Homo sapiens: one gene and its partners. The protein of the gene in region 1 interacts with the protein of each later gene in a pairwise test. Each region holds a gene or a part of one and is shown in the gene's direction. Other genes may lie near its edges. The genes, in order: ZBTB7B, SYTL4, ZNF277, ZSCAN5B, ASXL1, P4HA3 and OSTF1.

Region 1 (3,500 bases):
AGTAAACTTGACGTTTTGCCCGGACAGTTTGAAGTTGCCTCGCTGCCCCCTCCCCCCCACTCTTGCCAACACAGAAGCGGCCAGGCGCCAAGGCGGGCCCGGGGGACTGGGAGGAAGGGGATAGAGCTGCTGTCATCCACCATCAAGTGTTTGGTGGGGTGGGGACAAGAAAGACCCCCACACCCAGCCAGGCCTAGGTCTTGGCAAGAGTCTTGGCTGGGGCCTGCCAGCATCTGTCCCAGAGCCCTGGGGAGCCCAGGAAAAGTGGCTTCAAAGCAGGTCCTCTGCCCACTTCTGACTTCCACCTCTACTAGGGAAAGGCACCCAGCTACCACCTGGCCCCCTGAGTTGCCATCTTTAATATTCACTGGCACAGGGACAAAGCTACCTTTAACAAATTCCCCAGGGAGACCAGAGAGGGCTGCCCTCTTCATCCTGTCCCATAGTTTGGGATGGACATCTTAGCCCTCTCTTCCCTGAGGCCTCCAGATGCCATGGTTCTGCTATGGAGGATAGCATTCTCATTTGCCAGCACTTGCCCTGACCACACCTGGGCCTAACCCCACATATACCTCTACCATATTCACCATCAGGCCTAGCCCTGATCTCCCCAAACCCCTTCCTTTGCCTGCTATCTTCCCCAGAACCAGGTCAGCCTTCAGAGCTTCCCAGTCAGCAAATACCTGTGCCAGATTCAGGGGTCGAAGGTGCCCCAGGCAAAAGAGGGCTGATGGCAGGCAAATGAAACAGTGATCCCCCATAAATATGTCAATTTGCTATCTTTTGACATCACTGATCCTCTTCTTCCTCCCAGGCCAACAGAATGACATGGGGAAATGCCATCCCAGTCCCTGACAGGCCTCAGAGTGGGGCTCCCCCAGGCCCTTACTTTCGACCTCATGTCTCTGGCTTCAGTTTCCTTCCTGTTTCCACCGTCCCCCCAACTCCTCCCCACCCATATGCCCCTTTCAACAGACATCCTCTCCTCCTTCCTTCCTCCTTTCCTCCCCCTTTGCCTGGGAGCAGGGGTCCTCTTTCCTCCACCATGGACATCCTAGCCTTTTACCTCTTCTTAAACCTAGCCCCCTTGGAGATTCATGACCAAGTCATCTGCCCTTCTCACCCATCAGCAAGGCTCTGGGGAAGAGGAGAACCCAGAGCTTCTCAAGGGGGACTACAACTCCCAAGGTACATACAAAGCAATTGTGGTGCACACTGGGAGTTGTAGTCCTTGAGCTCTCAATTTGGCTGAGTCTGGAAGTGTTTCTGGATGAAGGTGAAAGTCAGAACTGGGATGGGTTGGAATGTGGGTACCCTCTGCATCCCCCCACTTTATTCTTGCTATCGCATTGCCATGGGATGCTGTGTACCTATGATTGACATCCATCTCCCTTGCTGAGACATGCTACCTGTCCTCACCTTAGGGCCCCACCCAAAAGATGCCCACACCCTGCCCTGCTGCCCCTGGCAGGGGTGAAACAGAGGGGCCCCATGAACTCCCTCCCTGCCCCCTGCCCTCTAGGCTGGTTCCCTCCCTTTATGGGGATCAAAGGGCAGAGAGCAGCCCCACCCCACTCCCTTGCAGGCTGCAGGCACTAGGGCTCTCAGGAATTGCAGGGACTTTGGTGCCCAAGCAAATGCTTGGGCAGGGGGAATGCCGGGAGGTTGGCACCTGGTGGTAGGGAGAGACACTGGCCCCCACCCTGGGGTGTGGAGCCTTCATTAACTACTCACAGGGCTGTCCATTGCCTCCTAGGCTCTCTCTGTGTAGGCCCTGACCAGTGTGCTACCTCTTGAGGAGGTGGTTTGAGAACAGGGTCTTAGGCCTTATCTGTAAGGCCTAGGGGCCTGGGCCCGTCTGGCTGGCACCAAGGCACAGGGTGACCCTCCCCCACCTCAGGCCCACAGTTGGCATGGGGCGCTGGGAGCAGGGGGGTAGGAGGGAGAGGAGGGCAGGACTGCCAGCATCCTGGTGGGTAGGTGCCAACCGGGCCGGGAGCTGGTGAGGGGCAGCAGGCCAGCGGCATTGAGCCAGCAGCTGTTGGGGGAAAGGGGAGGGGATATTTTAGGGGGCATTTCTATGGTACCCCCAAGCCTAGCAGGATTTGGGATGGCCTAGTGTCTGGGGGTCACTAGGGCACCCCTCATTCCAGGAATAAGGGACCCCAGGAGTTGTTTAAGTGAAATTTGGTGGCCCATCCATGTCTGGGCTCAGAGCTCTCCTGAGTTGCCCCTCAGGCCCAGGCGGGTCCCACCCAACCGGCCAGGGTGGCAGCAGCTTGCGCAAGGGGTGGGGCTAGGCGCTTCCCAGCAGATGCCCCCTCCCAGCTCCTTCCTCTTTCGGTGCCCACAGCTCCCCCAATCTGTCTATCCCCCTCAGGCCAGCTCTGTTCCCCCTGATCCCCCTGGCTATTGGGGGCTGGCATGAGTGCTGCCCCCTGGCCTGGTTGGCAGGGGTTGGCACCCGGGCAAGGAACTGTGGTATGTGAGTGGGTTTGGGGTGAGGCTATGGGGAGGGCGGGGTGCCGCCTTGCCCAGCCCCTGAGGGCCCCAGCCCAGTACAGGGTAGGGAGAATTCGGCCAGCTCCCAGGGGGACTGAGGAGCTTGCTGGGGTCTAGAGGGCTTCCTTGTGGTCCCCATCCCACATACTCTGAGGGGCTGGGACCCAGGCACCTGTCACCCCTGGCACTGACTGTCCAGGGTTCCCCTCCTCCCTCTTCTAGCCACAGCTGCCTCCGTCCCCTCCCCTCCCTTCTTCCTTCTCCTGGTCCCACCTCCAGTAGCCTCTCCCATTGCTCCTCCTCATCTCTGTCCTCCTGGACTGTCCCAGCTCCTACCTTTCCTACCCCTCACCTTTTTCCTCTTTTAGGACTGAGTAAGGACAGGAGTGGGTGGGTTCTGCTGGGGCTTCAGGCACCACAGGCAGAGACTCTGGGCCCTCTCCCACGCCGCCAGCCCTCCGGTAACCCCTCCCTCCAAGCTGGGGGGAGGGGGGACAGCACCCAGAGGGTTAAGGCTGTAGGGGGGAGGGGCTGGGCCAGGTCGTGGGCGGCCCCTTTGAAGGAGGGAGCTGGAGCGGGGAACAGCCACCCTACCTCCCCCCAAGCCTGGCCCTCCCCCACCTGTCCCAACCTGCTGCCCCCAGGGGCCAGGAGGAGTTGCCGCCAGGCCCCTCAGCGTTCAGGTGAGTAGGCCCTGCTCTGGCTTGGGAGATCAGGCCCCAGGGGGGCTTGGAGGCCTAGAATTAGCCAAGGGTCAGAGGACTGAAAAACAGGTCAGGAAGAGGGTGCCCAGACTTCACAAGAGAGTTTAGGGAACTGAGGGCTTGAGAAGCGGGAATGTGGGGAGGCCTCAGTGTTTAAGGGGACCCGAGCAGATCAGGAGAGGCAGAAGAGGGGCCTATAGGGACTGAGTGATTGCTGGGCCAGGCCAGGAGGCTGGACAGGCTGGCAGAGAGCCGGGCTCCGGAGATCGGGCTGGGGTGTCCTCTGGGGCTGGG
Region 2 (3,500 bases), on another chromosome or scaffold:
CTGATTTTTGCTTTGAGATTGCATTCCTGATGCCAACTTTGACCTAGTTGGAAGTACTTCCTCTCTCTTACTTTTTTTTTTTTTTGAGGCAGAGTTTCGCTGTGTCGCCCAGGCTAGAGTACAGTGGCGCGATCTTGGCTCACTGCAAGCTCTGCCTCCTGGGTTCATGCCATTCTCCTGCCTCAGCCTCCCGAGTAGCTGGAACTACAGGCGCCCGCCACCATGCCCGGCTAGCTTTTTGTGTTTTTAGTAGAGACGGGATTTCACCGTGTTAGCCAGGATGGTCTCGATCTTCTGACCTCGTGATCTGCCCTCCTCGGCCTCCCAAAGTGCTGGGATTACAGGCGTGAGCCACCGCTCCTGGCCTCTCTATTTTTTAAAAGTATGAGTCTCTGGGTGGAAATCTCTAAAGTTTAAAAGTGGAAATGTAAAAATGTTGTGCTTCTTGTTGGTAGGAAGGGGGACTGCACTGGGAGGAAGGGGTGTGGATTGTCAGATGTCTTGAGGCTTTTCAGGCTTCTCGCAAGATCAATAAGAGGCTGGAGAAAGTTACTGTGCAATGGGGAAGTGAACAGCTCAAAAGAATAACGGATGGCACAAATTAGGCTTCTGGTTTCAAGTTACCCATAGCCTTTTAGGTATGAGGTGGTTATTGGATTATGGAACTTTATGGAAAAGCCGTAGCTGAGTGCTATTTGTGTTGTACTTAACTAGTTTTCTACCAGGATGACTGTGCAGTCTGGAGAAACCACTGTGTAACATAAAAGAAAAAAGTGCTATTCTGTTTAAAAGTGTTTTGAAATGTTCAGAAAGGAAGAGGCCAGAATCTCTTAGAAGACAGACTTGGAAGGAGTTGGGCCCTTCAAAAGGTGGTAAATATGTGATTCTCATCATTTAATATATGTTAACTTATTTGAAACTCAAATTTGTACAAAAAGCTGACCAGCTTCTTTTTCTACTAAATTTGTCTCCCCAGCCTTTGAACATTGCAGTGACCTGGGGTTCAGTCCCTGGACTTTTCTCCATCTAAAATCTTCACAGAGGCTCTCATCCAGCTGCATGGCTTTGAAGAACATCTGTCTAGACTGTTGTCACTCCCAAATTTATGTTTGTTACCCAGGCCTTTCTTCTAAGCTGCAGCCTCATATATCCAATGACCTATTTGACATCTCTGCTTGCCTATCAGATAGACCTCTCAAATGTAACGTGGCCAAAACGGCACTCCCGATTGCCCTTGTATTCCCACCCTCTTCCCTCAGCACTCCCTGTCTCAGTAAAATGTCACCATCATCCATTCAGTTGCTCAAACCAAGAACCTAAGATCACCCTTGATTCTTCTTTTTCTATCACTGCTCTCCACCCAATTTAATTCATGAGGGAGTCCTGCTGACCTGATCTTCAGACTGTATCATGTGTTCTGCCACACGTCTCCATCTCCTCTGCCTGTCACCCTAGTCCAAGCCACCACACGTCTGCCACAAACATTCTTGCATAATGCTCAAGGATATATATATACACAAGTATTTTTGTGGGATAGCTTTCTAATAGGAGAATTGTTAGGTCAAAGGACATATACATTAAACAATTTAAATAGGCATCACCAGAGTGACATCTAAGAGGGTTTACCCTTTCACCATTGCGAGTGGTTTTCCTCCTGCCCTTGCTGAGGATGGATGACGCTTTTAATTTTTTCCAATCTGATAGGTGAAAAATAGTATCTAACTGATTTAACTTGGCATTTCTCTGATCACTAGTGTGGCTGAGCATCTTTTCATTTGTGCTAGCTATTTGTATTTTTCCAAGACTTGCTCCTTTATATCCTTTGCACATTTATCTTTTGGGTTATATATTTGATTTGTTTGTAAGAACACTATATTTATTAGTTATATTTACCCATTGCCTATTATATAGTGCAAGTTTTTTTCTCTCTAGTCTGTCATATGTCATAACTTTGTTCATGATGTGTACCCCTCTCGTAATCAGATAAAACCCACTATAAAACATTTAAAAAACACGTTCATTAGATTTGGCAATTAGGAGGCCAATGACAACATCAGTGCAGCAGGAGGAGAGAAGGCAGATCGTAGAGGGTTGGGCAGTGAGGACTGAGAAGGACTGATAAAAAATATGGTAGATACACATGGACATGGAGAGTGGGATGATAGACAATGGAGACTCAGAAGGGTGAGGGGTGGGAGAAGGGTAGATGATGAGAAATTTCTTAATGGGTACAATGTATGTTATTCAGGTTATAGATACCCTAAAGTCTCTGACTTAACCACTGCATATGTAACAAAATTGCATGTGTACCCCATAAATTTATATAATTAAAAACATGTAGTATATACATTGAAGAAGCTTGGCTATGATGGGAAGGAGAGAGTGTTCCTTATAGACAGTAAGGCACAGGGGATAAAAAGGCTGTTTTATTTAATTTTGTTTTACTTTAAATATAAGAGATAGATGAGCCCATTTATGTGCAGATGGCATACAGCTTGATGATGCAAGGTCCCCGAGAAAGTCAGAGGGTGGGAGTGCCAGAGTGAAAGAGGAGAAAAGACTAGCCTTAGAGAAAAAGTGGTGGCTCTTCCATTGAAACAAGAGGATTCACCAATCCTCTTGGTAAAAACTATGGAGAAGGAAGTACCTGTGGAGGGACAGGATTTTGAGAGAGCCCCTCCGCCCCCAACAAGAGAGTGAAAGGTTCACCAGAGAGTAAAGAAGGCAAGAATGGTGAAGGGTTGGAATAGCATTTGAGAGAGACGAAAAGAGGAGTTCTTTAGGGGCATATCATCCAGGTTATGTATGTGTATTTCAAAATATCATGCTGTACACCATAAATAGACACAATTTTTGTCAAGTATACCTCCATAAAACTGGAAAAAAGTTTTAAAATGGCTTGGGTAACTTGAATTTGTCTCTGCCTCAAGTCGCAGAACCCTGTATCCATTCTGTCTGGCAGCACTCATCAGACCAGGAACAGAGTGTGGACAATCTAGTATGGGGAATTTTTTCCGGGTGGCCGTGACAGAAATAGGGAGAGGGCTGGAGATTGGATGGCCCTGGCAGAAGAATAGTTGAAATGATGGACCACTGTGGCTTTCATATTCATATCTGTGACTATCTAAACCTAACTTGACCTTGAGTAATTTTTAAGAAGTAGAAAATTTCCATGGCATCTACACTGCTTCTTGTTTGTAGCTCTATCGATTCAGGCATCAGAATACCATTAGTATCAGTGTCTTTAAACTCATCAGAAAGCGTGATTTGATTTACTGAGGGCCTATGTTGTGCCATGCTCTGTGTTGATTTACTGAGGATTTACGTTGCACCAACTGAGAGCCTACAGTCAGGATCCTACAATGTAGATTTATCCATCTATCCATCCATCAACCCAGCTAGATGCTTGAGGTATGGCTGAGAAGAAGGTAGACAATGGCCATTTTTCTCCTGGAACTTATTTCGGCAGGGGAAGTGTATATTAAATATTGTATCACATA
Region 3 (3,500 bases), on another chromosome or scaffold:
TATCTTACCTACACTTTTATCACACTGCAGAATGCATACATAGACTTCTACATTTTTAGAAGGCTACAAAATGGATAACATTGTAAATTATAAAAACTATAGATATAAGCTATGAGCAATTATAATGTTGTTGCTGTTCTTTGATATGGAGTCTCGCTGTGTCACCCAGGCTGGAGTGCAGTGTCACGATCTCAGCTCACTGCAACCTCTGCCTGCTAGGTTCAAGCGATTCTCGTGCCTCAGCCTTCTGAGTAGCTGGGATTACAGGCACCCACCACCACACCCAGCCAATTTTTGTATTTTTAGTAGAGACGGGGTTTTGCCATGTTGGCCAGGCTGGTCTCAAACTCCTGACCTCGGGTGATCCGCCCACCTCGGTCTCCCAAAGTGCTGGGATTATAGGCGTGAGCCACCGCGCCCGGCCCAATTATAATGGTTTAACTGATTGACATGACTTGTTTGGACTATGCTGTAAAAAAGTTGGGTATGGAGGGAAGTAGTTAGACTTGGAAGACTTCAAAAGCAGAAGATACCGAACTCAGACTGAGTTTCTAAACTACTCAAACTCCTGTGAATAAGTTGTTTATAACTTCAGCCTGAAAGATTAAATAATTCATATGCTTACAGATGTATTCATTCCTTTTTTAGGATGCACACGAATTTGATCTTCTCAAAATAAAGTCAGAACTTGGTAAGTTTGATTCAGAGGTTTTTTTCTGTGATGCTTCATTTTTTATAAACCATCCTGTAAGCTATGCCTATGTTCAGTAGCTATGATTGGAGAGTGCACCACCAAAACATGTCTCTCTATAGATGGTCTTGACAGAACTCTCTGTGAAGCAGTGATGCTCAACCATAATAGTCAAATATGGTTTTTGGTTTCATATACTCCTTCTTTCTCTTTCCTACATATATGAGTGCTTCAAGTGAAATATAAGTTAGTGGTTAATAATATATCATAAATTGGAGGGGGCTAGTGGAATATGGATTTTTAAGTCAAACTAGAGTTCAGATTCCAGCTCTGGCACTTACTGGCTATGACATTGGGCCTCAGGTCAGAAAAATGTTATGAGGAGTGAATAATGTATGGTAAATGGCTACTGCACTGCTTAGCAGTATAGCTAGGATTGTTTGTTATAGGTGTACCCAATGTATCATTCTAAGTATCACAACAATAGAACGATTTGGGGCATTAAGACATACGTAAAGTACTGACTTGCTAATAGATCTAAGACAGTAAAAAACTTACTTCTCACAGCTCAGCTCAGTCACTGCTTTCCTAGGTCCTTGGATGTGTTACTTTGCTGCTTTTATAGACATATATATACATTGTTTATATAATTAGCTTAGTAGTCAAGCATGGGCTTTGCAGCTGACAGCTATCTATGCGATGCTAGGCAGTTTCCTAATATGTAATGTAGGTATGATACTACCTATCTGATAGGGTTTTATGAAGATTAAATGTATTAATACATGGAAAATTATTAGAATAGTGCCTAGCTCATAAGCCCTGTGTAAATATGTGCTGTTATTATTTGGTATCTATTATTATGCTTTATAATTGTACTGCCTCTTCAGGTTGATTAATAAAAATAAGTGGCTCCTTTAAGAAATTATAATAGTGCAAAAAATGGGTCTGAACAGTTGTCTAATGATTCTGTATTTTGTCATTTTCAGGATTAAATTTCTATCAGCAAGTGAAACTGGTCAATTTTATTCGGAGGCAAGTTCACCAATGCAGATGTTATGGCTGCCATGTGAAGTTCAAATCCAAAGCAGACTTAAGAACTCACATGGAAGAAACTAAACACACTTCGCTGCTCCCCGATAGAAAGACGTGGGATCAACTGGAGTACGTACTGCAAAACCAAATGTGCACTTCTTACTCCAACTCTTTGATTTTGTCCCTTTATTTAATTTCTTTAAGCCTACAGAAAAAAAAGGAATACATATTTATTATAAAAAGTATACATCAGTACAGTGTGGGGAAAAATGTAAAAATATTCAAAATGCTTATTTTTAAAATAATCCCCCTCTTACAAATGAAACCAAGTATTTTTCAGTATTTGTGATATGGAGATAGATACATATGTAGAGAGATGAAGTAGATACAGATTTTTTAAATTATATTTTATTAACAAAATATTGTAAATATCTTTCAATAGCCAGTATCCATCTGTTGCATCCTTTCTAATGGTTGCTAAATATCCATTGTATGGATATAATCTATTCTGCGAGATACTTAGGTTGTTTCTTACTTTTTGCTATTATAATGATACAGTGAATCTATATGCCTACATTTTAGCACACTTATCTAATTATTTAATTAAGCTGAACTCCTAGAAATAAAATTACTATGTCAGAGTTTGCACACTGCTAGGACTTTTTGTATATATTTTGTATATTGGCACTTGAAAAAATTAAGCAGTTGGTCATCTGTTGTTGGATTCCCATGTATCCTTTGCCAGAACTTTGTGGACTGGTTCCCAAGTATCCTTTGCCAAGAACCTTCTGGACTGGTTCTCACATCGTTCTGGATAACCTCAGTCGAGGGCTCCTCTGAGAGACTGTGGGGTTCTAGCTGCCCAGAGCTCCTTCTGTTCTTAGGGAATGTTAAGTCAGTTCCCCCAGAACTTTAACCAGAAAGTTCTAGTTTTTCTCCTTCAGAAAATCCCACACTTGTGAGGGTACCCTGTTTTTATGATCCTTCTTATATAAATTAAAATTTGTAATATTCCAAAAGTAACTTCAAAATGTATTCAGAGAAGGAACCAGAATAACAAACTTTATATTCCGTAAGTGTTTCCTTTTGTGATTACCTAGAAAGAAGGAACTATTAGGCTGGAAAACAAAACACAAGGAAGAGCTTATTATTCTCAATTATTTGAATAATTTGTGTTTGAAAAATTAACTATATTTGAAGTTTGTTAACTTATAAGGAAGAACTAGGACCTTTGAGTAGAAATGAGAAAGATGTCATTTTTAGCTTCACAGGAGGTGTATCAAACAACTAGATCTACCCACTACTGGGGTCAGCTACCTTCGAAGATAGTGTGTTTTGTTATCATGATAGATGATCAAGCAGAGGCTAAGTGGCCAGCGGACAACTCCAGAGGCAACTCTGGAGGGTGGGAGGTCCACGATCTTGGTTTACCAAATCTGGATAGTAGATTTGGTAAGGTTGATGTCAGCCAGTAAAAGTCAAAGTGAAAGCAATCAGAAGTTGTCTCCAGTATAGCCTTTGCAAAATGCTATGAAATTGTTGGCAAGGATACCTGACAAAATTATAGTAAATGTGTACATTCAGCTACCTGGACACTGTATTAGCTTGGTAATTTAATACTATGTATCTGTGGTTGTTTTCAGGTATTATTTTCCAACCTATGAAAATGACACTCTCCTGTGTACACTATCTGACAGTGAAAGTGACCTGACAGCTCAGGAACAAAATGAAAATGTTCCCATCATCAGTGAAGATACATCTAAACTGTATGCTTTGA
Region 4 (3,972 bases), on another chromosome or scaffold:
ATGAGAAAATGCACCAGAAAATAATTGTCACAACTGTTTGGCAAAATGACCTTGTATCGAGCACTTTATTGACCCAGTCTTATTGCATCTTCAAAACAACACATCAGGAAGGTTCTAGTCACAAGAAGTTTGAAGTTCCCAGAGTGAAGCGGCTTAAGATTTTCCAAGGATTTAAACCAGAATCAGTGTAAAATTAACAGCCCTCCAATTTGTCCTAAAGGTTAGACGAGAAGGTTTCCTCTGAAATTAAAATGAATGAGTCACTACTTGAATGGATTAGTGTCATCCAACTGATGGTGTGAACTTCCCAAATTGTAATCTAATCCTGCCTAGCACTTAATTATCATTCCACATTAACTCCATGATCCACACAGTAAAATTCACACCCACCGTTAAGGCTTTTCTTGCTTGAGAGCCCTAACTGAGGGGGCTGAGAACTAGGGAACCCCGTAGGACCCTCAGTGTATCTATAAACCACCCTATCACCGTCCTGGAATGAATGCAGAGTGGGGACCATGTGCCTTTCTCTGGTTCCCACTGCTTTTATATAAGGCTGATATCAAATCAGTGATTTAGTTTAGTTTGAACAAAGCTTTCACATGCCAATTCCAAGATTTTGAAAAAAATAAAAAAGTAAAAAATTATCACAAACATTCATTACATATCAACGAGTGTCCACAATTTTCAACATCTTGGAATTCGCGTGTGAAAGCTTCGCTCAAATGAGATTAAAAATGAGATTAAATCACTGGTTTGATATTAATCAACCAACTCTATTTTGAATTTTTCTTTTTTTTTTCTTTTTCCGTTTTGTTTTAATAAGCGAAGTCAACCAGCTCTTAACACGTCCTTTACTTGTTAGGATATTACTGTCTGTGGCATGAGGGGACCCAAAGTGGTTAAAACTTGCAGATCTATATTTTCTGAGGCCTCCACATACTTCAGCAATATGACAACTCAGTAGAGCGGGAAAACCTGTATTATTTGCACAGTAGGCACGTTTAATACATTAATTTCCTGTGGGTGGGGTTTCAGTGGGAAATGTAATCAACGCCGATTACGAAAATGGACTCTGTGGCCCTAAACCAATCACGGCGCGGCGCAGGGAACCGGAAACGCGGCCTGGAGTCCCGCTTCTCCATAAATAGACGCAGTTCAGCTCCAGGCCGGTTGGAGAGCGCATCCCAGACCGAGAAGGTCGGAGGCAGAAGCCGGGAAGGAGGTGAGTGTCCAGCGGCGATGGCTGTGGGGTTTCGGAGCTGGCATGCGGGGGGTTGGTTTCAGAAAGTTTGGGTTTATTTTCTCATGCATTTATTTTCTCGGAGACTTTGTGAAGGCAGCGGGTCTCCTTTGCACCCCATGATTAACTCTGACTGGCGATGAAGTGCTTCTGTAAACTAGGAATAATATTAACTTTCTCGGTCGGGCCCAGTGGCGCACGCCTGTAATCCCAGCTACTCTGGAGGCCGAGGTGGGCAGATCACGGGATCAGGAGTTCAAGACCAGTCTGACCAACATGGTGAAACCCCGACTCTAACAAAAATACAAAAATTAGCCGGGCGTGGTGGCGGGCGCCCGTAATACCCGCTATTCAGGAGACTGAGTCAGGAGAGTCGTTTGAACCCAGGAGGCAGAGGTTAGGGTAATACCCGCTATTCGGGAGACTGAGTCAGGAGAGTCATTTGAACCCAGGAGGCAGAGGTTGCAGTGAGCCGAGGTCGCGCCATTGCACTCCAGCCTGGGTAACAAAGCAAAACTCCGTCTCAAAAAAAAAAAAAGGAGAAAAATAAAGTAATAATGTTAACTTTCTCATCATGGTTAGGTTTTGTTTCATTTTATTTTTCAGAGACGGGGTCTCGCTCATTTCCCAGGCTGGCCTGGAACTCCCAGGCTCAAGCTATGTGCCCTCCTCGGCCTCCACCTAGCTGGGGCTGCAGGAGCACACCACCACACCGCCCGAGTGCATTTTTTTATTTACTATAGAGACGTGGTCTCGCTGCTTTGCCCAGTCTGGTCTCGAACTCCTCGGCTCAAGCAATCTGCCCGCCTCAGCCTCGATCTCCGCTTTCTGAGCAGGGGCGCTTAGGGAACCTGGCGGGAAAACCTCTTTAATTCCCAGAATTTCAGGCTGCCTTTTCTCATATCTGTATGCTTTTAAAAAATGTATCGATTTACTTAATAAATAAACAAAACGAGATGGCCGCTGGATGTGTCTCCCAGGCTGGAGCACAGTGGCACAATCGCGGTTCACTGCTGGGCTGAAGTGATCCTGCCACCTCCGCCTCCCAGAGCACTGGGGTGACAGGAGTGAGCCATCGCACCAGGCCTAATTTACTTTCAAATTGAGAAATATAAATATATAATGGTGTATATGTCCGGTGCACAGCATAGTGTGTCAAGGTGTGTACGCATTGTGCAACGGCTAAATCGAGCAAACTGCCATAGGCTCTACCTCACTGTCTTATCATTTTTGGACAACACTTGAAATCGACTCCCTTAGCAATTTCCAAGTATACGGTACATTGCTGTGAACTATAGTCACCATGCTGTGCAGTAGACCTATTTAACTTTATTTCTTTTATTTTTTTAAAAAAAAGTTTTAATGGCCAGGTGCGGTGGCTCACACCTGTAATCCCAGCACTCTGGGAGGCCGAGGCATAGGGATCACTTGAGTTCAGGAGTTTGAGACCAGCCTGGCCTACATGGCGAGACCCCATCTCTACTAAAAATACAAAATTTAGCCGAGAGGGGTGGCTCACGCCTATAATCCCAGCTACTCGGGAGGCTGAGGCAGGAGAATCGCTTGAACCCGGGAGGCAGAGGTGGCAGTGAGCCCAGATCGGCCACTGCACTGCAGCCTGGGGGATAGAGTGAGATTCTGTCTCAAAAAATAAATCAATAAAACGAAATAAAAATAAAAATAATTTTAAGTAGGCCAGGTATAGTGGCTCACACGTAATCCCAGAATTTTGGGAAGCAGAGGCAGGAGGATCACTTGGACCCAAGAAGTCAAGGCTGCAGCAAGCCAGGATGCACCACTGCATTCCAGCCTGGGTGACAGAGCAAGACACTGCTGCAAGTTTAAAAACAAAAATAGATAACTTTAAAAAAAAATTCCACTTTTATTTTAGGTTCGGTGGGTGCCTGTGCAGATTTGTTACGTGAGTGTACTGAGTGATGCTGAGGTTTTGGGTATCACTGAACCTGTCACCCAGGATATGAGGATAGTACCCAGTAGGTAGTTTTTCCACCTTCCCACCGTCTGTCACTTCAGAGCTTCACTGTTTTGGAGTCCACGTCCTGATTTCCTTTCCTCTGTGTACCTGCCCCGGAGCGGGATTGCCGGCTCATGCAGTTGTTGGACTTTCAATTTTCTGAGGAGCTTCTATACTGTCTCCCATATCGGCTGCTCTAATTTACATCCCAGCACAGGGCGCAGAGGACCCCTTTCCCCCGAATCCTCACCAACACTCGTTCCATGTGTCTTTTTGGGAACAGCCACTCTAGCAGGCGTGAGGGGTGCCTTGTGGTTTGGATTTGCATGTCCCTGATGATGAGTGATGACGAGCACCTTTTCCTAGACCTGCTGGCCATTCACATGTCTTCATCTGAGATGTCCACACAGGCGCCTTAAGCCCTTCTAGTGGGTTATGTGTTTTCTCGCTCTGGAGGAGTTTGAGTTGCTTATGTTTTGCACAGGAGCCCTGTGAGATGTGTGGTGTGTAAATATTGTCTCCTCCTCTGGGTTGTCTCCCGCCTCTGCCGATTGTCTCCCTGGCTGTCTCTCTGTTCTGCACTTGCTCAGAGTCCTTCCAGGAAGTGTGGGGTACTCGCCCTCCAGGCTTCCAGTGACCTTTCCTGAGACCCTCCTGCCAGTTTTTTCTCCCCTCTGCAGACCTTCAGGTTGCTTCCCCCACCTGTGTCTAGGAAAGCAGGGCTGTGTTCTCATAGCTGTTGAACTTGGGTGATAAT
Region 5 (3,500 bases), on another chromosome or scaffold:
AGCAGGGCCTTGATTCCTGCTCCTTAGCACTCCACCCTCCCCAGAACTAACATGGTATAGCTTATAGGAGGCACCCTATAAATGTTTAATGAATGTTTGAATGCAAAAGTGTATCTAACTTTCTTAATGATATATTTATGAAAAGAACTTGCTGAGAAAAAGGTCAGTTAGAAAGGGTTAGGAACTTGTCAGTATTCTAAATCCCTCTTTTTCAAAAGCATACACATTTAGGAATGACTGCCTTGCTTTAAGAATTTGTAGGGTTTTGTTCACCTGAGTTGTACCTTGCTGTCACAGAAGGATGCCCTGCAGTGGTCTCGCCATCCAGCTACAGTGGAGGGAGAGGAGCCAGAGGACACGGCTGATGTGGAGAGCTGTGGGTCTAATGAAGCCAGCACTGTGAGTGGTGAAAACGATGGTAAGGACCCTTTAATGGATGGGTGAGGGAGCCACAGCAGGCACTAGGGACTAACCTTTATTTTCCTCTCTTCCAGTATCTCTTGATGAAACATCTTCGAACGCATCCTGTTCTACAGAATCTCAGAGTCGACCTCTTTCCAATCCCAGGGACAGCTACAGAGCTTCCTCACAGGTAAGGAAGAGGTAGAGCCTAGCCTGGGAGGATGAATGATGACAGGTATAAGGCAAGATCCCTCCTTCTCCTGTAGTGAGCTGTGAACATGTTCAGAGAGTGAAGAATAGAAGTCTGGTCTCCAGCTGTTAGTAGCATTTAACAGGGGGCCGCAGGAAAAGTGAACAGTAGGTTTGAGCAGAGTAAGTTTTTTCTCTTTCTTTACCTTGGCTGAGTGATTTTGTTCATTCTTTTTTTTTTTTTTTTTTTTTTTTTTTGAGATGGAGTCGCGCCTGTCGCTCAGGCTGGAGTGCAGTGGCATGATCTCCGCTTACTGCAACCTCTGCCTCTGGGGTTCAAGCAATTCTCCTGCCTCAGCCTCCCGAGTAGCTGGGATTACAGGCACGTACCACCGTGCCTGGCTAATATTTGTATTTTTAGTAGAGATAGGGTTTTGCCATGTTGGCCAGGCTAGTCTCGAATTCCTGACCTCAAGTGGTCTGTCCACCTCAGCCTCCCAAAGTGCTGGGATTACAGGTGTGAGTCACCATGCCTAGCCTGATTCTGTTCATTCTTGTAATATACACGTGAACATTCAGGGAGAAGTGTGGTTAGTGCAGAGTAGAGAGAACAGGAGATTGGGAGTGAGCAGTTTGAATGATAACCCTGCACTTACTAGCCTTGAGACTTGGGGAAAATTCCTTACCTGTAAAATGGGGATAACAGTACATTTTTGTAGCTTGGAATGATGCTTGGCACAGTGACCAGCACGTAGCTCAGTAACATTAACCAGTGCTCTTGTCAGCATTATTTGACAGATCTGGTTGAAGACGAACTTCATTTTACAAGAGCGTGAGTAGAGATAGTGTCGCCAGGGAATGCTTTTGTGGCTCTGCAGTTGACTTGGGCTCTCTTTTGTTCTCTCTTGGAACGCAGGCGAACAAACAAAAGAAAAAGACTGGGGTGATGCTGCCTCGAGTTGTCCTGACTCCTCTGAAGGTAAACGGGGCCCACGTGGAATCTGCATCAGGTATGTGTAAACTCATGGTTGTGATGCTTTTTCCTCAGGTCCTGGGGACCTGGCCTCCCTCTGTCAGCAGTTTCTGACCTAATAGTGCGATACTAGGAGAGCTGTCGGGCCACAGGCAAGAGCCCTGCCAATGGATGAGGCCTGCCATAGGTTCTAGTGCTGGGCTCTGCTGTGTGCCTTCCTCTTTGTCTCCCAGGGCAGTCGTGAGGATCCAACGGAGGATTTGATTATGCCAGTGCTTTGTAAAAGGTGTAGTGCTATACAAATAAAGATGGCAGTTTGGCACCTGTAAGGTGATATTTTAAAGCCAGACCATGAAGTGGTGGTTTCTCTCAGCCTAAGGCTGGGAGATGGAAGCATCCCAGTATTGCTGGCAGCATCTCAGGGAGAGCTGGGAGAAATGAGCTTGTCTGAGAGCCATGGGCGCGGCTTGGTGATACTTTTGACCAGTGGAATGCTGTGCCTTCAGGGTTCTCGGGCTGCCACGCCGATGGCGAGAGCGGCAGCCCGTCCAGCAGCAGCAGCGGCTCTCTGGCCCTGGGCAGCGCTGCTATTCGTGGCCAGGCCGAGGTCACCCAGGACCCTGCCCCGCTCCTGAGAGGCTTCCGGAAGCCAGCCACAGGTGAGTGGCGTGGCACTTATTTCTCTGCCTGTAAAGGGGGCCCCTGCAGGCCTAGTGAGAAGATGATGTCTTCTATTCCAATTCCTTTACCAGTTTATTTTTACTTCTTGGGTGGCCCTCTATTTTTTGTTTATTTTTACTTTGTAATTTGCTTATTTCATTTGTAGCTCTCTGCTAAACTGTGAGAACTCCTTTCAGGCAGAGATGATGCCATACTGTTTCTCGTATGTCCCTGTAGGCCTAGTCTATGCCTGCCTTGTACTGCATAGTAAGTGTTTGAGTGAGTGAAAACTGCTTCTGAGCTTCTCAGTGAAGAATTCCAACACCCCTTTTCTCTCTTCGGTAGCATGTTGCCACATTTGTTCCCAACATCTGTAGTCTGTATCAGACGCTCCCTTTTTTACAACCTAGTCAGTATGTTGAGTGGAAGCATGTGTTGAATTTTGGGGATGCAAACAAATTCAGTAGTGCTATTATCTATACCTCCCACCCCTCACCCCACCCCACCCCCATTAGGGTTATTTGCAATATTAGTATGCTCTTTGCTATTTCAGGATTTAATTCTTAATGACCCACATGCTGGTTTTTTTTGTAGATGAAACCATTAAGAAGACAAGCTTTTGCTTCTGAGAATTAGAGTAAACCTTTGCCCATGTGAGAACTAGGTTTGCTGTCTTGCTGCTTTTCCAGCTCATCAGCAGTGCTCAATCTAAGGTCTCACAGGTCTCTAGTCCTAGTGAGTTTTTCAGATAAAAGTAACATTTGCTGAGGCTTCTGTGAGAGGTATTAGCATCTCAGTTGGCTTTGAACAGTCCTTAGTACATTTCTGCATGGAGATCATCCCTCTCCAGCCCATTCACAGAAGGCTTCTGCAGATTTTTCTATAGTATACTAACTAGATTTACTTTTAGATAATTCTCATGATTTCTCCAGTTGAGCTTTGTGGAGCCTGTTCTCCAGCTTTGGAGGGAAGCTCAGAACCTGCCCCTTGCCTGATTTTCTGTGGGAAGTGTCCTTTTCAGGCTGTGACACAGCACGGTACAGAGTTTTGTCTGAGGAGATGCAACCCCAAGTGTTCTCCTGGGTTTGATGGCAATGACAGTAACCTGGAAAGAATATACAGGTTAGGATGGACTGGACAATTGAGCAGATTGTGTGCAGATAACTCCTGGGTAGCTTGGGTGCTGTCACCAAAGTTTTCCCATCAGTTGGCATTTGTTTTTTCTTTTAAAAAGCTGAAATCTATACCTTGCTTCAAAAATCATAGGTCAAATGAA
Region 6 (3,500 bases), on another chromosome or scaffold:
TGGCTGAAGGACACTGTTGACCCAAAACTGGTGACCCTCAACCACCGCATTGCTGCCCTCACAGGCCTTGATGTCCGGCCTCCCTATGCAGAGTATCTGCAGGTGGTGAACTATGGCATCGGAGGACACTATGAGCCTCACTTTGACCATGCTACGGTAATGGTGGAGTCAATGACCAATCCCCTGGGGTAGGGAGCCAGGGCATTATTTATTTCTCTGAGGCAGAGCTCTTGTAGGCTCTCAGGGAATACTAAGTGAAATCTTAGAACAAAGGTTCTTTTTCCAGAAATATCTGAAAGCCTTAGTTTCAAGCATATTGTTGCTGACTCATTTTCTTGTCTGCCACCATCTCCCTTCTAAAATTTGCTGGTGAGGGAAGAATGTGGCTTGTCATGGAATCATCGGACTGCTCCACTCAGGGACTTCCTAGTGAGGATTGTCCTTCCTCCAGTAACTCTTCTAGCCTCATGATCTCAACTGGCCATCTTTGCTGATAATAGCAAATAATTTTTTTAAAATTTTAGATTCATGGGGTACATGTGCTTGTTTTTTATTTACGTATTTATTTATGTATTTATTTTTTTCTTTATAGGCAGCATCTTGCTCTGTTGCCCAGGCTGCAGTGTAGTGGCACCATCATAGCTCACTGCAGTCTTGAACTCCTGGGCTAAGTGATCCCCCCATCTCAGCCTCCCAAGTAGCTCTAGGACTACACCTGGCTAATTTAAAAAAATTTTTTTTGTAGAGACAAGGTCCTGCTATGTTGCCCAGGCTTGTCTTGAGCTCCTGGGCTCAAGCGATCCTCCCACCTCAGTCTCCCAAAGTGCTGACATTACAGGAGTGAGCCACTGCACCCAGCCATACTTGTTATATGGGTATTGCATGTGTAATGGTGGGGACCACACTTCTAGTGTACCCATCACCCAACTATTGAATGTTTTACCTGACACGTAATTTTTGAACTCTCACTCCCCTTTCACCCTCCCCCATTTTGCAGTTTCCAGTGTTTGTTACCTCCATCTTTATGTCCATGTGTACCCATTGTTTAGCCCCCACTTATAAGTGAGGACATGCAATATCTTATCTTCTGCTTTTGAGTTAGTTCACTTAGGATAATGGCCTCCAGCTCCATCCATGTTGCTGCAGAGGAAATTATTTCATTCTTTTTATGGCTGGATAGTATTCTGTTATGTATATATACCTTATTTTCTTTATCAAATCAACCATCGATGGACATTTAGGTTGGTTCCATGACTTTGCTGTTGTGAATAGTGCTGCAATAAATATCTGGGTGCAGGTGTTTTTTCTGTAATATAATACTTTATTTTCCTTTGGGTAGATACCCAGTAGTGATTTTTGAGGATTAAAATGACCTCCCCAAAATTGATCTATAAATTGAACCCCAGCTTTATAAAAATTCCAGGAGGTTTATTTTTGTAGAAATTAGCATGCTGATCCTAAAATGTATATGGAAATGCAAAAAACCTAGAGCAGCCAAAACAATTTTGAAAAAGAAGAACAAATTGGAGGACATACACTATCTGATCTCAAAACTTAATATAGAGCTACAGGAATCAAGGCAGTGTGGTACCAGTGTAAGGAGAGACACATATGTCAATGGAACAGAACAGAGTCCAGAAACAAACCAACACATTTATGATCAATTGGTTTTGACAAAGGTGCCAAGGAAATTCAATGAAGAAAATACAATCTTTTCAATAGACAGTATTGGAACAATTTAATATCTATCTGCAAAATAATAATGACTTTACACCCTTACCTTACACCATATATGAAAATTAACACAAAATGGGTCATAGATGTAAATGTAAAACTATAAAACTTCTAGAAGAAAACATAAGAGAAAATTTTTGTGACCACAGGTTAGGCAAAGATTTCTTAGATATGACACCAAAGTATGATCCATAAAAGAAGAAAACAACTGATAAATTGGACCTTATCAAATTAAAATTCTTTGCTTTTCAAAAAACATCATTAGAAAAGGAAAAGACAAGCCACCAACTAGGAGAAAATATTTGCAAATCATATATTTGGTAAAGAACTTGTATCCAAAATATCTATAGAACTTTTATAACTCAGTAATAAGATAATTCAATTTTTTTTAATGGACAGAAAGTTATTTGAGTAGGCACCTCTCCAAAAAGGATAAATGAATGGCTAAGAAACATATGGAAAGATGCTCAACATCATTAGGGAAATGCAAATTAAAACCACAATGAGATAGCACTGCACTCTCTTATGATGGCTACAATAAAATAAGATTATACCAAGTGGTGGTGAGGATGTGGAGGAACTGAAGCTCTCATACACTGCTAGTGGGAATGCAAAATTATACAGACACTTTGGAAAAAAGTTTGATGGTTTCTTAAAAAGTTTAAGATTCACCTACTTATGATCCAGCCATTTCACACCTATGTATATTACCCAAAAGAAAAAGAAAATATGTCTCTACAAACATTTGTACAGAAAAGTTTATAGTAGCTTTATTTGTAATAACCAAGAATTGGGGCTGGGCACGGTGGCTCATGCCTGTAATCCCAGCACTTTGGGAGGCCAAGGCAGGCGGATCACGAGGTCAGAAGATCGAGACCATCCTGGCTAACACAGTGAAACCCCGTCTCTACTAAAAATACAAAAAAAAAAAAAATTAGCTGGGCATGGTGGCAGGCGCCTGTAGTCCCAGCTACTTGGGAGGCTGAGGCAGGAGAATGGCATGAACCTGGGAGGCAGAGGTTGCAGTGAGCTGAGATCACGCCACTGCACTCCAGCCTGGGCAACAGAGTGAGACTCCATCTCAAAAACAAAAAAAAAAAAACAAAAAAAAAACCAAGAATTGGAAACAGCCCAGATGTCTGTCAACAGGTGAACGGATAAACAAATTTTGATATATCTGCACAATGGAATGCTATAGAGAGAAAGCAGATAAGTGGGTTGCCTGAGGTTGGAGGTGAGAGCAGGGATTGACTCCTAACTGGCATGAAGGAGCTTTTCAGCAGATGGAAGTGTTCTGTGTTCTAAACTTCAATTGTGGGAAAACTCATTGAACAGTAGGCTTACAAGGGGTGAATTTTATGGAATATAAATCATATCTCAAACTGTTCCATGACAAAAAAAAAAGAGTATGTCTCTTCAGCAAGTAATTGGAACTCTGGCCTTATGATTTGGTATTTCTACAGAATAATTGTCTGTAATATTTTATATATTAATTTCTATATTTCACAGAGAACTCAAAGGTGCAATTAACCCCTCATATAGTACTTTCACTACTGACAAGTAGTTCTGTTTGGTAGTAGACAATTCTTTTATATAAGTATCTAATAAATTAGTAAAAAAAAAAATTGTATTGAGTACCTGCCAGCAAAGACGGGCACATACTCCAGTAGGTGTATATCAGAACTATATCCCATCTTTGATGCCCCCATTTTACTTCTATTTGTATTAATAGTGGAATCCTGCCTGTCCCTCTGGTGCCATCTGCA
Region 7 (3,500 bases), on another chromosome or scaffold:
AGGACACAGAATATGGGCAAAACTTAGGATAGTGGAGTAGAAGGGGACAGAGTTTTCCTATTTGTCTCTCAGGCTTTAGCTTAGAAAGCTACATTTTACCAAGTTGACATGAAGTCCTGAAGGTCCTGGGTGTGTGTTGGGGGAGAACAAAATATATTCCTCCCACTTCTTGTGAACTCCTCTTGAGGAGAGTGGAGAAGAATAGAGTCAACCTGGAGACTTCCAGTAGCTTGAAGGCTGGTGTGAAGTCAGTGAAACATGGCCAGGTGTGGCGGCTCACACCTGTAATCCCAGCACTTTGGGAGGCAGGGAGGATTGCTTGCATCTGGGAGTTCAAGACTAGCCTGGACAACATAGTGAGATGACGTCTTTACAAAAAAAATTAAAAACTAGCTGAGTGTGGTGCTGCATGCCTGTAGTCTTAGCTACTTGGGAGGCTGAGGTGGGAGGATCACTTGAGTCCAGAAAGTCAAGGCTGCAGTGAGCCATGATTGTACCACTGCACTGCAGCCTGGGTGACAGAATGAGATCCAGAAAAGAGACTTGGCCTCTGTTCTGCTTTATCTTTCCTTCTCTCTCTTGCAAGATAAATCGGCTTCCACCTCCCTTGTACTGATCATCCCTTCTTCTTTTCTTTTTCTCAATAATCATTTTCCAAAACATGTAAACATGAAAACTTTTTTTTTTAAAAGAGCATTAGCATACCTAAAAAATAATTCCTTAATATTCCTTAATATCATCAAATATCTTGTCCTTGTCCAAACTTCCATTTTCTCATACATCTTTGTTTTTACTTATTTATTTACTTATGGTTTATTTAAGTCAGGATTCACATAAGGTCAGTTTGTGATTGGTAGATATGTCTCTTTATTTATTTTTTAAGCAATAGTTCCTTTCCCTCTCTTCTTCCCCCTTTTTAACCTTGCAATTTATTTATTAAAGAAACTGGGTCAACTCACTTGAATTTCCCATTGTGGACATTGCTAACTGCATTCCCATGGTGTTATTTGTCATGTTCCTCTGTCCTTTATGTTTTTGTCAATTAGTGTTAGATTTAGAGGTTTGATCCAATTTAGGTTCATTCTATCAATCAATCAATCATGAATCAATCATGTATCTGCCTGCCTATCTATCTATCTATCTATCTACCTATCTATCTATCTAATCTATCTATCGGTTTGATCTAATTTAGGTTCTATCCATCTACTTACCTACCTACCTACTTACCTACCTACCTAGCTATGTATCAAATCTAGCTAGCTAGCCAGAGGTTTGATCCAATTTAGGTTCAATCTATCCATCTCTTCACCTACCTACCTATCTACCTACCTACCTAATCATGTATCTTTCTTGGTAGTAGAAGGAATAATAAATCATATAGAATATTGTGTTCTTTTATCAGGGGCACATGATACCTGGTTGTCACTCTTCCTGTGATGTGACATCCATTGATGATCGTTGCCTAGATCTGTTACTTCACTAAACGGCACAAAATGATGATATTCTAATTAAATCACTTCTTTTTGAGTTATTAGCTGGAACATTCTATTAGGAAAAGTTTTCCCTCATCAATTGTTTTGTTACGCAGAGGAACAGTTAATGTAGCAAGGGCAGGATAAATGCTTGATTTTTGACCTTTATTTAAGAGGTTTTAAAATAATAAGCTGGTCTCTGTCATCCTCCAAAGGGTGACAGATGAGTTCTTTTTGGTGTGCCTTGAAATATTTAATGTGCTTTAATCCATTCCAATTAGTAGCTTTATCAATAGCCCATCTTTGGCTAGTGGAGGCCTCTTTAAGTTGAATCTCAGACCCTTTCACGTGATGCTGTCTTTGTTAGGATGCTTGCTTTATGACATGACTAGGGTTCTAGGTCCATCCCTTACACTTCCTGCCCCATACTTGGAACCGGTCATATGTATAATAAGCTTCAGAGATGTGATACTTAGAGATCATGAAGATCTGGGTGCTGTGACATATATTTATTGAACTTCAACAATGTGCTTGTGTTTGCATTCTGTTTTTCCCACTAAAATTATACTTGGGCTAATCTGTTGCTATAGGAATTTGACTAGACAGTTGAAGGGGTGACTGTGAAAGATCAGATGTCTTCCTTTTGAGTCCTGTTCAAGTTTGCTTGAACATTTGATGGGGTCCAGCTCTATTTTAAAACTTTTCCCCCCCATTTCAGCCTTTTGCTTTATTGTCGGTGTTTTCTACATTGAAATGGAAGCTTCTTTGTTTTCATTCTTTCTTTTCCTTTTTCCCCTTCGGTAGTTAACGTCCTACCTAGTGACTTTGCCTTTAGGCAAGACCTCAGGCTGTCACTGGGAGAGGAGGTTGGAAGCTCAGTTGTCAGAGTGGAGTGCTGCTGGTGGTGTATCATGTTGGTCATGGTGCCTGTGGCTAGGCCTTTCTGTTGGAAATGGATGCATGGCACCTAGGACCAAAACTTCTGCATGACTGTGGAACGCATCATCAGCCTCTGTGGCAACAGAAACTTAATGGTTAGGCTGAAAAGCAAAAGCAGAGAAAGATCCTCAGGGAAAGTACAATCCCTGGGTCAGATGGAAGATTCTATTCTAATTTAAGAGCTTTGAAAATGAAAAAATAAAATCTGAGCAGTTTATAATTTCCCTATTTTGCTTTTTTCCCTCCTCTTTCTTTCAGATGCAGTTCGAACATTAAGCAATGCCGAGGACTATCTCGATGATGAAGACTCAGATTAATTCCTTTCTGGAGCTTTGAGATCTAAAACTTCTGTTGCTTTTGCCATTCCAAAACTTTGTCTTTGCCAGAAAAGTGTTGGTAACTATAAAGAAAATTATATATGAACACGGCAGTGTTGCACTGTGTTTGAGTAGAACGTGTAAATGAATTGTTCCCACCTTTGGTTTGCCAGTAAGTGACTGGATTCTTGGCACATTTATGTTCACCAAAGTAGAACAAGAAGATATTATTTCTATTTATCAAGCAAAAGGAATTTTAAGATTTTTTTTTTTCTTTAAAAACAAATTAGGATTTTTTTTTTTTTTTTTTTTTTAGTTAAAATGCTTTACCTCAATGGTTGAGATATTTTGAATGGATTTTTCAAGGGGGGGAAATGCTTATTATAATAATAAACCAAAATACTTAACAGAAAATTGTCAGCTATTCTGACAAAAATAAACATTTTGAGAGACTTTATTTCTTTTGTCCGTTTCTGTGGTATCACTCATTGTCGTTAAGTAAGTAAAGCTTTTTATATTTAGGTAAGAACTGATTTTATTTTTTAAATTATATTTTATATTTATTAGCACAGAAGAATAATGAGAGCCACATTTTAGTTCAACTTCTTGTGTTAGCTTTGATCAAAGTCAGGACAATAATCATTGAGAAGGTGCATGTCTAATAAAATAGGTAAATTTAATAATTGTGAGACTTCCAGTTTTTATCTCCAAGGTTGTATTTAGAGTGGAGAAACCCAACAACTCATTACAGTTTCGCTAAGATTTGAAAGGT

What was found.
Region 2: the proteins of ZBTB7B (region 1) and SYTL4 interact in binary tests that used the Homo sapiens proteins (3 or more experiments, as listed by UniProt).
Region 3: the proteins of ZBTB7B (region 1) and ZNF277 interact in a two-hybrid assay, tested with the Homo sapiens proteins (one large-scale study listed by BioGRID and IntAct).
Region 4: the proteins of ZBTB7B (region 1) and ZSCAN5B interact in binary tests that used the Homo sapiens proteins (3 or more experiments, as listed by UniProt).
Region 5: the proteins of ZBTB7B (region 1) and ASXL1 interact in a two-hybrid assay, tested with the Homo sapiens proteins (one large-scale study listed by BioGRID).
Region 6: the proteins of ZBTB7B (region 1) and P4HA3 interact in binary tests that used the Homo sapiens proteins (3 or more experiments, as listed by UniProt).
Region 7: the proteins of ZBTB7B (region 1) and OSTF1 interact in a two-hybrid assay, tested with the Homo sapiens proteins (one large-scale study listed by BioGRID).

The regions. Positions count from the first base shown.
Region 1 is NC_000001.11:155,005,802-155,009,301, forward strand, and holds part of ZBTB7B (zinc finger and BTB domain-containing protein 7B), read left to right. Parts: intron 1-2,335; exon of another isoform or gene 2,336-2,424; coding exon of another isoform or gene 2,425-2,481; intron 2,482-2,792; exon of another isoform or gene 2,793-3,146; coding exon of another isoform or gene 3,147-3,185; intron 3,186-3,500. UniProt on the Homo sapiens protein: Transcription regulator that acts as a key regulator of lineage commitment of immature T-cell precursors. Exerts distinct biological functions in the mammary epithelial cells and T cells in a tissue-specific manner.
Region 2 is NC_000023.11:100,725,622-100,729,121, reverse strand, and holds part of SYTL4 (synaptotagmin-like protein 4), read left to right. Parts: intron 1-3,500. UniProt on the Homo sapiens protein: Modulates exocytosis of dense-core granules and secretion of hormones in the pancreas and the pituitary. Interacts with vesicles containing negatively charged phospholipids in a Ca(2+)-independent manner.
Region 3 is NC_000007.14:112,339,195-112,342,694, forward strand, and holds part of ZNF277 (zinc finger protein 277), read left to right. Parts: intron 1-648; coding exon 649-691; intron 692-1,677; coding exon 1,678-1,852; intron 1,853-1,860; exon of another isoform or gene 1,861-1,928; intron 1,929-3,366; coding exon 3,367-3,500. UniProt on the Homo sapiens protein: Probable transcription factor. Involved in modulation of cellular senescence; represses transcription of the tumor suppressor gene INK4A/ARF, perhaps acting via the Polycomb group (PcG) complex PRC1.
Region 4 is NC_000019.10:56,194,984-56,198,955, reverse strand, and holds the start of ZSCAN5B (zinc finger and SCAN domain-containing protein 5B), read left to right. Parts: upstream 1-1,172; 5' UTR 1,173-1,222; intron 1,223-3,972. UniProt on the Homo sapiens protein: May be involved in transcriptional regulation.
Region 5 is NC_000020.11:32,427,831-32,431,330, forward strand, and holds part of ASXL1 (polycomb group protein ASXL1), read left to right. Parts: intron 1-297; coding exon 298-418; intron 419-494; coding exon 495-592; intron 593-1,507; coding exon 1,508-1,601; exon of another isoform or gene 1,602-2,070; coding exon 2,071-2,223; exon of another isoform or gene 2,224-3,312; coding exon of another isoform or gene 3,313-3,346; intron 3,347-3,490; coding exon 3,491-3,500.
Region 6 is NC_000011.10:74,273,641-74,277,140, reverse strand, and holds part of P4HA3 (prolyl 4-hydroxylase subunit alpha-3 isoform 1 precursor), read left to right. Parts: coding exon 1-156; intron 157-3,500. UniProt on the Homo sapiens protein: Catalyzes the post-translational formation of 4-hydroxyproline in -Xaa-Pro-Gly- sequences in collagens and other proteins.
Region 7 is NC_000009.12:75,144,014-75,147,513, forward strand, and holds the end of OSTF1 (osteoclast-stimulating factor 1), read left to right. Parts: intron 1-2,669; coding exon 2,670-2,728; 3' UTR 2,729-3,252; downstream 3,253-3,500.